Homo sapiens: one gene and its partner. The protein of the gene in region 2 binds, or shares a complex with, the protein of the main gene of each other region. Links are inferred from orthologs where the notes say so. Each region holds a gene or a part of one and is shown on either strand. Other genes may lie near its edges.

What was found.
Region 1: the proteins of S100A1 (region 2) and CAPZA2 are in contact, whole or in part, in an NMR structure (PDB 2KBM), measured with the Rattus norvegicus proteins. The link is inferred for Homo sapiens from one-to-one orthologs. Residues at the interface, in NP_001007637.1 of Rattus norvegicus: Ser44, Phe45, Leu46, Asp47, Lys50, Asp51, Ala54, Lys57, Ile58, Glu61, Leu78, Ala81, Leu82, Thr83, Ala85, Cys86; in NP_001009180.1 of Rattus norvegicus: Thr267, Lys268, Ile269, Asp270, Trp271, Asn272, Lys273, Ile274, Leu275, Ser276.

Annotation. Positions count from the first base shown.
Region 1 is NC_000007.14:116,865,219-116,872,744, reverse strand, and holds part of CAPZA2 (F-actin-capping protein subunit alpha-2), read right to left. Parts: intron 1-7,526. UniProt on the Homo sapiens protein: F-actin-capping proteins bind in a Ca(2+)-independent manner to the fast growing ends of actin filaments (barbed end) thereby blocking the exchange of subunits at these ends.
Region 2 is NC_000001.11:153,623,473-153,631,579, forward strand, and holds the start of S100A1 (protein S100-A1), read left to right. Parts: upstream 1-4,961; 5' UTR 4,962-5,024; intron 5,025-7,036; 5' UTR 7,037-7,049; coding exon 7,050-7,190; intron 7,191-7,538; coding exon of another isoform or gene 7,539-7,606; exon of another isoform or gene 7,607-8,107. Other genes in the region: S100A13 (protein S100-A13), read right to left, coding at 4,058-4,126, 4,649-4,765, 7,539-7,606. UniProt on the Homo sapiens protein: Small calcium binding protein that plays important roles in several biological processes such as Ca(2+) homeostasis, chondrocyte biology and cardiomyocyte regulation.

The DNA of each region.
Region 1 (7,526 bases), on a different chromosome or scaffold from region 2:
CTATGCACTTTTCCACTTCAACTAAAAGAATTATTTGAAGTTGTCTTCCACAGCTCTCTAAAAAATGGCTATGTCTTTTGAGAATTAGAGGTAAAACCGGAGGAAAAAACCACTTTTTTGAACTTTATGACATTTAAATAGTTTATGACCAAGTGATCACTATCACATGTCTGTGTGTCAGGTGAATTTATCTTAATATGGGTAAACTTAAGAGTGGTAATTTGTTTTAATAAGTTTTCCTCTAAATTTTTTTCCTTTATAATTATCATTTTGATTGGTAATTAAAAACAGGGCCCACAGCACTTAACCTGAAACTGGGTCATCTAAAGAACTCAACATTGATTCTTCTTTAAATATGTTTTTACCATTTATTTAAAATATGAAGAAACCCATGAATCCAAAGTAGGCATTATCATCAACTAAAAGAAAGTAAGTTATGTAAACTATTCTTTATCTTACGTTTTCAATTTCCTTTTCCCTTCTGAATCATTTCCCTTATACACCCTAGAATGTTCTCTTACAAAAAAAAAGTATTCTTAAAATGAAATAGCAGGAAAAAACAAAGTAGTAATACATATTTTTCTCTTTTGTTTCACTACCAATTTTTTTCAAGAATAATTTGTACTTACTGTCTCCACTCCTCATCCTTTAGTCAACATTTATTGAGCCCCTAATACAGTGATACAGTGAGACTCAATCCTAGTTGCACATTCAGATCACCTGGGAAGCTTTAAAACAACAACAACAACAACAACAAAAAGGAATTACAGACACTCCAGGCCTCACCCACAAGAGGAGCCTGTGCGTTCATTTTGTTTATAAACTCTCCAGTTGATTCTAATGTGCAGCCAGAGTTGAAAATCACTGATTTAATACAGGCTAGGCGCTCTACTGGAATTACAAAGATGGTGAAGACATAAGGCCTGGCCCTGAAGAACACAGGAAATAAGGACAACAGGTAAATTTATTAAAACTGGTAAATGTTATAACAAAGATAAGTACAAATTGCTTAGGGAGCAGAGGTATGTCAGGATACAAAAGAAGAGAAGAAAGTCCTTGAGTCTGGTTATCCAAAGATGAGTAGTTTACAAGGCAAACAAGACTGAAATGCCGTTTCTGGAAAAGGGAAAATACACACATACTTTTTATTATAGACTCCAGTTATCTGGCTTATGTCTCTCCACTCCTTGCTCCAAACACTAGTAAAATTATTCTCTTGAAGGCCACTAATCCCTAGTCCACCACTTAAACAGCCTTAACTGCACCAGTTTCCTGTCTGTACAATGAAGATAATAACAAGGTTATTCTGACAATTAATAGAGAGAATACATGTTAAAGTCCCTGGCATAGAGTAGGTATAATTTGTTTCTCATTCCTTTCTCTTAAATCCAAAGGCTTTTTTCAATCTCATACTCCTTAATCTCTGCAACACTGAGCACCGCTCCTTCTTGAAATTCTCGTCACATTCTGTGACCTCAGCACCTACTCTGTGCTAGCTATCAGTAGGTAACACTTCGACCTCAAGGGTTTCTCCTCACCTTTAGGTCTCTCTCCACTTCTTATTCCTCAAATCAAAGTATAAAGTATACGCTTCCTGCCCTCTCCTCTTTCCCATGTCTAAGCTTTTTGTCCTAAAGGGCTTATCCCATCTCGCTTTAACCCACAAAAAGAGGATTCTCAAATCTCTATATAATCTCTGGAGCTGACCTCTTTTCCAAGCTGTTTCTCTATCTCCGTATCTGCTAGGCATTTTCACATAGACAATGACTAGCATCTCAAACTCCGTACAACCAAAACTAAATTCACCATTATTCCTCCCAGCTGTGTATCCTCTTTCCTGTGTTCTCCAGTTGTTACTAGTGGTACCAATTCCCAGTCATCCAGACTTTAATGTTCACAGTTTTCTCTGACTCACGCCTTTCCCCTATATTCATTTATCAAGTCTTCTTGATTCCAACTCTAAAATCTATTGGCGATCTTTTTTTCCTCCATTTCTTGTGGGACGAACTTAAACCAGGTCCTAAAGTCCACTTAAGCCAGGTTCTCAACTGTTCTTACCAGCTCTAATCTATCTAGACTCATGGGTCTCAACAAGGGGTGAATCTGTCCACCAGGAGACATTCTGGATTGGTAAGCCTGGGTTATGGTAGTGGCATATCATGTGGGCTAAGGATGTTGCTAAACACCCTACAACGCACAGCATGTCCACCTGCCCAACAATATCTGGCCCAAACTGTCAACATTGATGAGATGGAAAAACCCTGACAGTCAGCTGTTAAACAGCACAATTCACCTTTGCATCTCTTATTGTAAAAGTACCAAATATAGAGTAGACACTCAACTATTTAACTGAATTCTTTTTACACAAAACTCACTGCCTGCTTGTTCCCACTTTCCTGTTATTTTTCCCTATGTTGTGCTCTCTGGTATGAGCTTGACCCCAACTGATGTTTACCATACCCCTAGGCAGAAGTAGCTTTTCTATCTTCTAAATTTTTAGACCCAATTTAGTATGTATATTACATATGTCCAATTCCTCTTCGAATCTAGTTTTGCATTATATCTACCTTCCAGGTGATCGCTACACTTTAGTGAATTTAAAACTTAATCTATGCTGTCATTACTGCTATTCACAAATATTCCAATTCTCCTCTTCTGCCCTGACCTTTCTGAAATTAGGTTTATACATGTAACTTGCTTTAGCTAATTGAAATCTGAGCAGAAGTGACGTGAGCTCCTTCCAGCTACTCGGAAGGCTGAGGCAGGAGAATTGCCTGAACCCGGGAGGCAGAGGTTGCAGTGAGCCGAGATTGTGCCACTGCACTCAAGCCTAGGTGACAGAGTAACACTCCGTCTCAAAAAAACAAAACAAAACAAAAAAAACAAGTGTGCAATTCATTCCATTTCCTTCCCACCACTGCAGTGACTGAGAAGAAAGTTTAGATGGAAGCTCTCTAACCAACTGGAACGCTAAATTACTTCCCTGAGCAGGGCTCTCTGCTAACTCACGCTAGACATACATGGAATGAATGAGATGCAGTACAAAGCCTCCACATTCAACACCCTTGTGCTGAGATTTTAGGAGTTTTGTTACTGAACTATATCCTTGCCTATCCTGATTCACAATCAATATAAGATGCATAACTTTATGTACCACTAAACAAGGAAAAACGCTACCAATGAAATATTACAACCCATTGATTGTACAATGCAGCCTGATTTCAGAGATCTTAAAATATAAAAAAGTATCAGTACTGAAATCAGTGAAATGTGGTATATTTAGTAAATGAATGAAGATGGAGGTAAATGGATTTCAAAAGTCATTTCCAGTAGAAACACTGCGAATTAGAATGTATAAGAAAAGTTCTCAGTCATTAGATGCATAGTGAAACATGTAAATATGTCATAAGAGCAAGAATGCAAAAACTATACTTAATCCTCAAAATAAAATTTATGAAATTCTTTTTTGAAACAGCCATGGGTATTTTCATGGAACCTGTCAGAGAGTGGTTTTCAGAAGACAAAGACCCCATTTTCTTTGATATGCATGAATCTCCTATTTAACAAATTATTGCTATAATAACTTTAACAAATTTTTGCTTCAGGTGACTGATTAGGCTTTTAGGTCATAGCTTGGAACCACAGATCCAAGTTTTGCCATCCTGCTTTTCAACCTTAAAAATTATTTTAGATTCTCTGCTCTAAGTGTTTTCATATCTGTATTCTCACACTAACATGCAATTATTCTATCTATTCAACTACTCATGCAAAAATGGCTCCCAAATGCACTGAAAATTTACTACAAATTTACTTTAATGTACAAAGTCTGAAAAACTCCACTAATGCTACAGCTGCTATCAAGTTCCTGTCTGCAACAGAAGTTTTTACACTTTATTGGTGAAATAACATAATTTATCTATAGAATAGAATTAGGAATGAATATTGTCCACATTAATAGCTTTTTGCTTGAGTTTACCTTCTCAATAATAAGAATTTTTTTTTAAACTTTTTGAGATGGAGTCTTGCTCTATTGCCCAGGCTGGAATGCAGTGGTGCGATCACCGCTCACTGCAACATCCACCTCCCGGGTCCAAGCGATTCTCCTGCCTCGGCCTCCCGAGTAGCTGGGACTACAGGTGCACGACACCACGCCCAGCTAATTTTTTGTACTTTTAGTACAGACAGGGTTTCACCATGTTGGCCAGGCTGGTCTCAAACTCCGGACCTCAGGTGATCCACCTGCCTCAGCCTCCCAAAGTGCTGGGGTTACAGGTGTGAGTCACCGCGCCCAGCCAATAAAAACATTTCTAATTTTACATTAATATTATGAAATACAATGGCAGCTTATATTGTTTTTACACACACAAAATTTCTGAAGCCAGTCACTGAGGGAGAAGTATATAAACTGCAGGTACAGCCATCCTATTCATCACATGGTAGAGTAACAACAGATGCTAAAGATGACATTATGTCTCCACTTAGGAATTCCAATGGAAAAGGGAAAAAACGGTAAGCAAATAACTATTACGCAAAATTGTATTTAATACTAACGATCTCTTGAAGAGTTCAGATGAGAGGCTAAACTAGCTGTGTAATCTAAGCTAAATCTTGAGAGATGACTGAGATTTTCATGTTTCAAAAAAGGGGACAGACCTGGGAGCAGTACCAACACTCAAAGTAGATGAAAAGTCATGAGCAGAGAAAAATAACTACCATTTATTGTGCGCTTACTACATGCCAAGCCCATTTAGACTTACAACAACTTAATGAAGAAGGTACTTACTACAACATTCTAACATTTCAGAGCAAACTGAGGCTGAGAGATTAAATAATTTATCTGAGGTGCTAGAAATGGACCAGTGGCTGGGAGTGGTCGCTCACGCCTGTAATCCCAGCACTTTAGGAGGCCAAAGCTGGCAGATCACCTGAGCTCAGGAGTTCCAGACCAGCCTGGGCAACATAGCGAAACCCTGTCTCCACTAAAAACACAAAAATTAGCTAGGGACGCAGGTGTGTGCCTGTAGTCCCAGCTACTCAGGAGGCTAAGACAGGAGAATTGCTTGGGCCTGGGAGACAGAGGTTGCAGTGAGCCGAGATCGTGCCACTGCACTGCAGCCTGGGTGACAGAGTGAGAATCTGTCTCAAAAAAAAAAAAAAAAAAAGAGAGAGAAATGGACTAGTATGCAGCTCTCTGAAGTCTCTCTAAATTCACAGCACGATTAAGTAACAATACGTATTGAAAATGTCAGAACTATTTAGGTTAAAATGGAATACAAGGCCATGAATACCATTTTAAGAACTTGGCTTCCTTGTAAAGGCAATGGAGGATCCAGGCACTAAAATTTTGAGAGTAGAGAAATGACAAAGTAAAGCATGGCTTAGATACAGGAAACAGGAGGGATTAGTCTAGAAATTTTCTAGTAAAAGCCTAACAGTGGCAAATATAACAGAAGGGAAAGAACAGATATGAGACATTTTTCTTGACTTTACTTCTTAACTGTTGGCACAGAACAAGTATAATCAAGTTGCATTCTGTTTGTACAGTGAAATTTTGTTACCAAACATTATTTAACAATCAGGTCAATGCAGAGATAATAAACGAAGTATTAATATAAATGAATTAACTTTTCAAGCAAGAAATAAGTTATTTGTATAATACATATTTTGACGATGGAAGTGACAACTTTTACCAGTTGATTGTAAGGTACAGGGCCAAAAAAAGTTAGAATAAATCTGAAATTAAAAACCAGGATGACTGGAATAATGGGAATAAAGATATAAAGAGAAAAATTATCAAGAGTAGATTATACCCCCCTTTGTGTGAGAGGAAAGAAGATGGGCGTTTATAAATTTACTTCTAGGCAAGCTCCATTTGAACATACCTAATTAACCATCTCCAGTGAACATGAATAGCAGATAAAAATCTGACCAGTAATCAGGAAAGAAGTTAGTGCTACAGCTATGTACCTGGGAGACAACTGCAAAGACCTAAAAGTTGAAGCTATGGGACAGATTATTGTAATCACTGAGGTAAAGGGTTACAGGAAGAAAAACGATCTTTCCCATCAGTAACTAAGTGTATTCCTTCTGGAACTTGAATCTCTTATCCAGAGAGAGGTTTCGGAATGGGTCTTTTCAATTGAGCCTTACACCATAATTTCATACAATTTCAAATTCACAAAAATGCTTTACTGTACAATACAGCTGACCCAGGAATGAAAATGAACTGTTTTTGGCCTAGGGTTTCTGTAACTATGTAAAAAAGTCTATGGGAGGCCGGGCACGGTGGCTCACGCCTGTAATCCCAGCACTTTGGGAGGCCGAGGCGGGTGGATCACGAGGTCAGGAGATTGAGACCATCCTGGCTAACACGGTGAAACCCCGTCTCTACTAAAAATACAAAAAATTAGCCGGGCGCGGTGGCAGGCGCCTGTAGTCCCAGCTACTCGGGAGGCTGAGGCAGGAGAATGGCGTGAACCCAGGAGGCGGAGCTTGCAGTGAGCCGAGATACCGCCTGGGTGAAAGAGCGAGACTCCGTCTCAAAAAAAAAAAAAAAAAGTCTATGGGACACACTATAGCAAGTTAAGAGCTTTAAAGAACTTCATTGTGTTCTTCAGCTAAATTTATTTCCCATTCACCCAGTGGCCAAAGGAGAAAAGGTTATTAAACTTCATAGTAGTATCCTCAAAAAGCAATTGTGTATGATTTTAAAAAACAAAACTATTATTCTAGATTGATTTCTAAAATGCTTCCTATCAGTAACATAACACCTTTAAATGTGTTAATAATAAGCTTTATTCTAAAATCATCAAGACAAAAATTTAGAACCTAACACTATTTGCTTGGTATTACTTTTTAAAAAAGGGCTAGGAATCATGGCTCATGCCCGTAATCCCAGCACTTTAGGATGCCCAAGTGGGAGGATCGTTTGAGCCAGGAGTGTGAGACCACCCTGGACAACATCGTGAGACCTTGTCTCTACAAAAAATTTTTTTAAATTTGCTGGGTGTCCTGGCACACCTGCCTGTACTCCCAGCTACTTGGGGAGACTGAGGTGAGAGGACTGCTTGAGCCCAGGAAGTTGAGGCTGCAGTGAGCCATGATCACCACTGCACTCCAGCCTGGGTGGACAGAGTGAGACCCTGTCTAAGGAAGAATCAACGTTTCTCCTTTTTCAAAATAAGCTGTCAACAAATTAAAAATGAAGAGACAAAACCAGAAGAGGTTCTTATCAATTTTGTTTAAGAAAGCATAATGTCTGCTGGGCATGGTGGCTCACGCCTGTAATCCCAGCACTTTGGGAGGCCGAGGGGGGTGGATCACCTGAGGTCAGGAGTTCAAGACCAGCCTGGGCAACATAGCGAAACCCCGTCTCTACTAAAAATACAAAAATTAGCTGGGCATGGTGGCATGTGCCAGTTATCCCAGCTACTCGGGAGGCTGAGGCAGAAGAATCGCTTCAGCCCCGGAGGCAGAGGTTGCAGTGAGCCAAGATTGCACCACTGCACTCCAGCCTGCGTGACAGA
Region 2 (8,107 bases):
CCTCCTGGGTTCAAGCAATTTTCCTGCTTCAGCCTCCCAAGTAGCTGGGATTACAGGCGCACACAACCATGCCCAGCTAATTTTTTAAATATATTTTTAGTAGAGATGGGGTTTCACTATGTTGGCCAGGCTGGTCTCGAAGTCCTGAACTTCTCAGTGAGTAAACTTCTCAGGAAAAGGGAGAACGTGGAAAGATGTACTGAGCTTTGAGGAGAGAAGACAAATTGTGAAATAATTATCTGAAAGAACTGGTAAATGAATCAACCAGGGAAACACAGAACCGCCAGGTATTGCCAAGGGTCCCTTTTGGGGTCTGTGGTTATAGATTTAAAGTGAGACAAGTCAACAAAGCTATGCATTTTTCTCCAGCCAGATTCAGCTATCCAAGTGCAGGTGCAGAACAGTGGATTTAACTGGCAAGTTACTATAGGTGAAATGGTGGATTAACTGGGTTGAGAACAGAGAGAGACAGAATCAACGGGGTTAAGGCAGTGATTACAATTAGAAGCCTTAGAACCTGAGGTGAGGAGGAAGGGCAATGAGGACCCGAGGGATGTTGATGGAAGATGCAAAAGTGAGAGGGTCGAGAGACTGAAGGTACCTGAGGAGTCAGGGAAGTGCTGAAGTGGAGAAGCTAGAGAGGGGAACAGAACTGGAATGACAGGAGGAGGTCAGCAGATAAAGGGAAACTTGAAATCAAGATTTTGGAAGTTGTGCGTTATTTTGTTAATGACACAGTCTAAAGCATGAACAGAGGAGTGGGATGCTGAGATGTAAGAAGACAAATCTTTTTGGAAATGAGGAGTTGAGAAAATTGAAAGGCCCAGATGTTGGATGAATTGTCTGTGCGGATGCTGAAGCCACTGAGAATAACAACAGAAGCAGTGATGAGAAGAAAACAGTGAGCCAGGAGCTGAAGAGCTGTAAGGAGCGCAATAAGAAGAATGGCAGGTGGCAGATGATCTTCCAAGGCGCTGGGAAGTCTTAGAAAGAAGAAGAAACTAAAATCTAGAGATAATGGAAAGCAGAGAGGTCACTTCCTCCATTTCCAGGCCCAGAGGAAGTTGAATTTAGGAAAAAAAAAAAAAAAACCACAATCACTGCTTGACAAGGATATAAGGAATGCTGTCCCTTCAGGAGAGAACCTGAAGTTTCCAGTAAAAAAGATGAAAAAGGAAACGTCTGGCTGGGCACAGTGGCTCATGACTGTAATCCCAACACTTTGGAAGGCCAATGCAGGAGGATCACTTGAGGCCTAGAGTTTGAGACCAGCTTGGGAAACACAGAGAGACCACATCTCTACAAGTAACTTAAAAATTAGGCCAGGCGCGGTGGCTCACGCCTGTAATTCCAGCACTTTGAGAGGCCGAGGCAGGTGGATCACCTGAGATCAGGAGTTCGAAACCAGCCTGGCCAACATAGTGAAACCCCGTCTCTACTAAAAATACAAAAATTATCCAGGCATGGTGGCGGTTGCCTGTAATCCCAGCTACTCATGAGGCTGAGGTAAGAGAACCACTTGAACCCAGGAGGCAGAGGTTGCAGTGAGCCAAGATCGCACCATTGCACTCCAGCCTCGGTGACAGAGTGAGACTCTGTCACAAAAAAAGAAAAAATTAGCCAGGCAGTGTGGCATGCGCCTGTGGTCCCAGCTACTTGTGAGGCTGGGGCAGGAGGATTGCCTGAGCCCGGAAGGTCAAGGATGCAATGAGCTGTGATCGCACAGTGGCCTGGGCAACAGAGTGAGAAACCCTGTCTCAAAAAAAAGTCTGAGAAGTTGGAAGTTGTAGGGGATTTTGCAGATGAAAGACCATGAGTTTCAGAGACTCACTGTGTTCAAGGAGTCCATATTCACACACTTCAACGTGCCTGTGGATTTTCAGAAAGGATGTAAAACAAACTGTCAACAGCCAGAATGACCAGGCCTCTTCGAGGCCAGAGTCGATGAAATTTAAGACCTGACTCCAGCCTGTGAGTGCGAGAGAAGGAATGACTCTTACACCCTAGTAAGGGGATGCCCATAGCGGGTAGGGAGTCTTCACAGATGCACCCACAGACCCCCTACACTGAGGTCTATGACTCCATGAATTTGGCTGTGTTTTCATTTTTGATAAGCCCCTTTCCACTGCTAGGCCTCAGTTTCCATATATGTGAAGTGAGGAATGCGGACTGTGTTTTCTCTTGGCCTCCTTCCAGCTCTGACAGTCTGTGAATCTCCTGGAAGCCAGCTCTGGGTCCAGTCCTGTCTTGGGGAAATTAGACCAGAAAGGCACAGAGCATACACAAGAACCCAACAGCATCTTCTGACACAAGACCATACTCCCACTGGCACATAGTATCTTTGCTTACCTAATTATATGCATGGACACACAAACACACACATGTACACACCAGGCAAGAAAACTCACAACCGGGTCAGGCGCAGTGGCTTGCGCCTGTAACCACAGCACTTTGGGAGGCCGAGGCGGGTGGATCACCTGAGGTCAGGAGTTCGAGACCAGCCTGGCCAACCTGGTGAAACCCTGTCTCTACTAAAAATACAGAAATAGGCTCGGCGTGGTGGCACACACCTGTAATCCCAGCTACTCAGGAGGCTGAGGCAGGAGAATCACTTGAACCCCGGAGATGGAGGTTGCAGTGAGCCAAGATCACACCACTGCACTCCGGCCTGGGCAACAGAGTGAGACTTTGTCTCGAAAAAACAAAAGAAAACCTGCAACCATTGACACATGCAGCCACCCACACCCTTTCTTGTGGTCACCTCACCGTACTCGGCACCATCACGTCCTAAACACAGTGTCCCATAATCATCATCTCACAAAATCTCAGTCCCAGACTTCTGCCTACCTTGAGCAGATGGGGCAACTGCTGGGTAACCAGCTCTTTGAACTCGTTGACGCTGAGGCTATCCTTCCGGCCCTCCTGCCTTGCAAAGGTGAAGAAGGTGGTGACCACGGTCTCAATGGACTCCTCTAGCTCTGTCAGTGGTTCTGCTGCCATTAGGACCCTGAGGCCAAAGCTGATGTCCTCAAGGGGCTAGCTGACCTTTGTCAGGGCTGACCTGTGGAAGAGAGAAGGAGCAGAGAGGGAGAGTCAGGGAGCCCCAAGATGCAGGAATGGTTCAGAAGGTCCCTGCCTTGGTGTTATCACATCAGTCTCAGCCTGGAGGGGGCATATGGGGAAAGAGGGAGAGGACAGGGGTTGAGCTTGGGGCAGCAGACCAGGCAACGGCATCTCAGTTTTGGTGGGGGCAGGAGATTCAGCTCCAGAAACCCCCTCTTCTGTAGGTCTCACAATCCGGGATCCTTTTTAAATGTCTGTGGCTTAGGGACCCCTCTGTGGTGATCCCTCGATCTGGAGACCCCTCTACTTGAGAGGAGGTCTTCAGTTGAAGGTCCTTCTTGGAGTCCTTCAAGTCTGGTGGCCCCTCTGTGGCGTGTCTGTCTCAAGAATCCCTTCTTGTCTCACCCAGACTCACAGGTCATAAGGTTGTTTGTCTCCAAAGCTTGTTTATGTTGGGCCCTGGTCTCCGGCCACTCGCATCCGCCCACACACACTCTAACCGCTCCTCCCAGCAGAGAAGCACAGGGTCTGGCAAATGTCCCCTGTGGTCAGAGCTGGCTCCGTCTGAACAGACCCATTTTCTCTGCCCCGCTCCACCCTTACCTCTCCTCAGCGGCAGCAGGGCAGAGTGCTGAACCCAGGACCCCACAGATCCTCCCCGCTCCTGTCTCCCGGTGACAAGGGTCCTGGAACGGGGCGTCTCTGACTCCCTGCTCCAGGACGGGTTTAGTACAGGCACTCACAACCCCCTGGGGTGCGGCGGGTGGGGCTGGAAGAGGCATTCTCTTTTCTGTCCACCCCGTCACACACTCCTGCACGCGCTGTTGCTCGATCATCCAAAGCTCCTTCCTGAATTCCTGTCTGAGCTGGCTCTGGGGGAGGGACCTGGGAGCCCAGGAAGAAAAAATGATCTCCAGCCTCCCTCCAGGGTCAGCCATGAGACTCACCCGGCAAGGAGATGGGGTAGAGTGAGCTGGAGCCTCAGGGCTGAGGTTTATAAGCAGCGGGGAAGGAGGAGAGAGCTGCTTCCAAGCCCGGAGGTGTCAAATTTCCGTGGTCGATTCTGAAGACCAGAGACAGCCCAATCAGGCCGCTTGCCCTGAGCCCTCAGGTCTGGACCCGGGCTCCCTGCCAGCCACACGAGCGCCCCCACTTGGTCAGGGAGAGGAGCTGCCTGGACAGATCTCGTTCGGCAGGGGTCCCAGGGTCCTAGTCCTCTCAATACTGGGGGCTGCTGCCACCATACCCATGTCTAATCAGGAGTGTGTATGCTGAGGGGGGAAGAGGGAGGCAACCAATCAAGGGAGCTCAACACTGAGAGGCCCAATCTGAGACACACACAGAGGCCCCTTGGAATGAGATCCCACAAAGGATGCTACAGACCAAGATCCCTCAGAGAACCCCAGGCTGAGGCCCCACACACAGAGGGGGATCCAGGTTGAGACCCCCAGAGAAGAGTCCTGGATTGAAATCCCTCTGTGGGTTCTCAGACTCCCAAGACTAAGTTTCTCACTGAGGGTCCTCTCAGTGAGGCCCCATGGAGGAGCCACAGACTAAGACCCCCTCAGCAGAATTCCCCCCTTACCGGGCTCAACCAGCACAGCCAGCCACAGGTACTGCAAGGCCCAGCTTGGGGTAAGACATCCAGTGTCCCTCCCAGGACCTCCTTCCCACCTCTTTCCCCTGCACCATCCACTGCTGCCTGGAGAGAAAGGAACGGGGCAAGCAAGGCTGGGAAAGAGACAAGGGCCGCCTGTTCCAGCCCAGGAGACAGAGGGCGCCTCTGTCTGCTCCTGGCCCCTTGCCCCACAGGGTGTTCGTCTGTGAAGGGGTGGAGTCGGTGGGGGGGTCAGCGGGGGAGGGACTGTTGAAGACAGGTCTCCACACACAGCTCCAGCAGCCACATTTGCAACCTTGGCCATCTGTCCAGAACCTGCTCCCACCTCAGGCCCAGGCCAACCGTGAGTACCCTGCCCCACTGGGCTAGTCCCTGGCCTGCCAGCTTCAGGGAGAGGGGTCTTCAGAAGGGCTCCAAGAGGCTGGGGACCATAGCACTGTGGAGCACTGAGGATCTGGGAGGAGTCAGTCAGGGTGAGGGCAGTTTGGGATTTGGGGGAGACAGGGTTTGGAAGGTGGTGATGAGAGACAAATGAACTGAAGGTCGGAGAGAGAGCTGGCAGCTCAGCAAAGGAGGAAGCCAGTGGGGAACCCACCATGAGCTTCCTGACCGCCTGGCCCTCCCACAGGGAGCCCTCAAGTCCCTGCCAAGGCCCCCTCTGTCTCCCAGGTGTTGGGAAGGGTCCCAGCCCTCCCCTGCCTCGCCTCCTGTGGGGTAAGAAGAGAGCAGATACAACAGCTGTTTCTGCCCCCACCTCTCCTGCCAGCCTTAGTCTCTGCCACCCCCACCCTGCCTTGCCAAGAGCTCAGGTCCCGGGGGAGTCTGGGGGTGGCAGGGCAAAGCTCCCATGATATGGGGAAGCAGAGATGTAGGGTGCTGTGCCCCTTCCCAACTCGACCTCCACAGGACCTCCCCTTTCTCCTCCTCCCATTTTTGGCCCAGACCTCTTGACTCCTCTTTCCCCCCATTCTTACCTCTTTGTTTCCCCATCTCCCCTGCCCCCAAGTCCTCTCAGAACTGCCACCACGTAAAATCCCAGGCTGCTTTAGGGCTCCAGGTGACCTCCAGCTGCCCCTCTGGCATGGAGCAGGTAATCAAGCTACCAGCACCCCTCCCTCAAGCACCCCTTATCCCCTCATCAGCCACAGCTTGGGTTCCATCTCCCCCATGTCTCTGTGACAACTGCTTCTCAGGTCCGGAGTTCAGATGACACTCACAAGGGCCCCATTGAAGAACTGGGATGTCATTCGATCAGGGGCCATTGTCCAGCCCCCTAGGCCTGGGGAAGGATGGGGACATCTGATCCGAGACACCTGAGCTGCCCCCTCTGGGGTTGTGGAAGGCCAGACTGTCCCAGGGCCAAGGGAAAGAGGCCCCCCGGCTTGGCAGTCTTCTCTCTCAACAGACCACTCCTTTCTCCTTTCTTCTCCTACTCTCTCCCAGCCCCTTGAACTCAAAGGACCGCATGCTTTCAGCCCTTTCTCTCCCCCAACACACAGCAGCCCCATTCCCCTTGCTCCCACTATCCCCGAATCAACCAGGAGTGAGCAGTTGCAGGGACAACGCCTGCAGGTCTCCTCTCCCACTCCCTGGGAACTCTGGCTCCAAGGAAAAGGCTCAGACATTCCTCTCTCCCCTTCTGCCACCCACCAGATGGAAGGGATAATTTTGCAGAGGCAATGGGAGCATATCCCAAAGAAGCCAAAATGACATGTTCAGGAGAGAACAGAGTTGAAGGACCAAAAGGGGCCCCCAGCTGCTGACAGGAAACTCAGAGTCAGTGAGACCTCCCTCCCCCAGAAGGCGTACGCCACCCACTGGGGCTGCCATCCCCTCTACCAGGCTGACCGAGGGTACCAGACTGACTCCTTGCTAGGGGTGGGCAGCAGAAGGAAGGCTGTAGTGGACACCCCAGCCCACCACCCTCAACAGCAGAGCTTGGCTATGCTAGACAGGCAAGGTCCAGGGTAAAAATAGAGCCAGAGGAAGCATGGCCCAGTCCTGTGACCACCCCTGCCTGCCCCACCCTCCTCAATCCCTGCCTGGGCAGCCACTGCAGACATCTACCACAGGCCTCTGGAGCCAGCCCAGCTCCAACTGCTCTCTCTCCATGCCCCAACCCTGATTCCCTCTGGCTGGGGTACAGACTGAGGGACACAGAGAACAGGCCTGCACTTAGGTCTCTTGGGGTTTCCCTCACATTGTAAAATCTCAGGGAAAGATCAATTGCAGTAGGGCTCTAATCCCACAGCTATTTGAGCTGTCAGCCAGGGCCAGTCCTGAGGGTTCCCCTCACCTAGACCCCAGGTACTCCGGGCCTGGTCCTCAGCTCACTTCCATGATGGGGGTGGGTAGGTGCACTGCTGCAATGGGCTCTGAGCTGGAGACGGCGATGGAGACCCTCATCAACGTGTTCCACGCCCACTCGGGCAAAGAGGGGGACAAGTACAAGCTGAGCAAGAAGGAGCTGAAAGAGCTGCTGCAGACGGAGCTCTCTGGCTTCCTGGATGTGAGCATAGAGTGGTGGAGTGGGAGTGGAGTGGGTGAAGGTTGGGGGAATGGGGTGGACACCCCCTTGCTATCTCCCCACCCCACCTCCAGCTCAGCCTAGCCTCTTTCTTTCCTTTCCCAGGCTTCTCTCCTGGGTTTTTCCAGGCTCCCCTACTCCTCCTGGGTCAAGTCAAAATGCCCTGGTTTATTGATCACCTGTTAAGTGTTAGGCCCTGTGTAGATTCATCAATAATAAGACACACAGACTTAGAAGGGAAAGATTGACACTTAAAAGTAAACCATGAACTCCAGGAAATACACAGAGCCTTAACAGATGTACCAGAAAGGGTTATGAGAGATTATTAACCTGATTGAAGTCAGATGGCTTTCCTGAAGAGGTGGCACTTGAACCATGGATTTCCATTGGAAGATTATCTGGGTAAATGCAGACATTTTAGGAGGAGGTAACTGAATGAACAAAAGCATGGGAGAAAGAAGAATGTGGAGCATGTCAGTAGTTTCATTCAACTGGCATGAAGGATGTAGAAAACTAGGCTGCTAAGGCTAACCAGGGCCCCAAAGTAAAGAAGCCTCAGGATACGGTAGAAAGTGCACCGGTTTTGAGGTTTTATTGGACTGGGTTCAAATTCCAGCCCTGCTACTTTCTAGCTGTGGGACTTTGGGCATATTTATTTAACCACCGATTACCAATTTGTTTCTTCTCTAGAATGGAAATAATGAAACATACCTCACATTATTTGTATTAGAATTAAATTAGACAGTGCTTGTAAAGCTCCTAGTGTAGTGCTTGCTTTATTATAGGCACTGAACATACGGTAACTGGTGTCATTATTATTCATTCTGCCAGGTGAAAGAGCTTATGCTGTAGGCAACAGAAGCCCTCAAGACCTTTGAGGAGGCCTAGAAGAGTCCCAT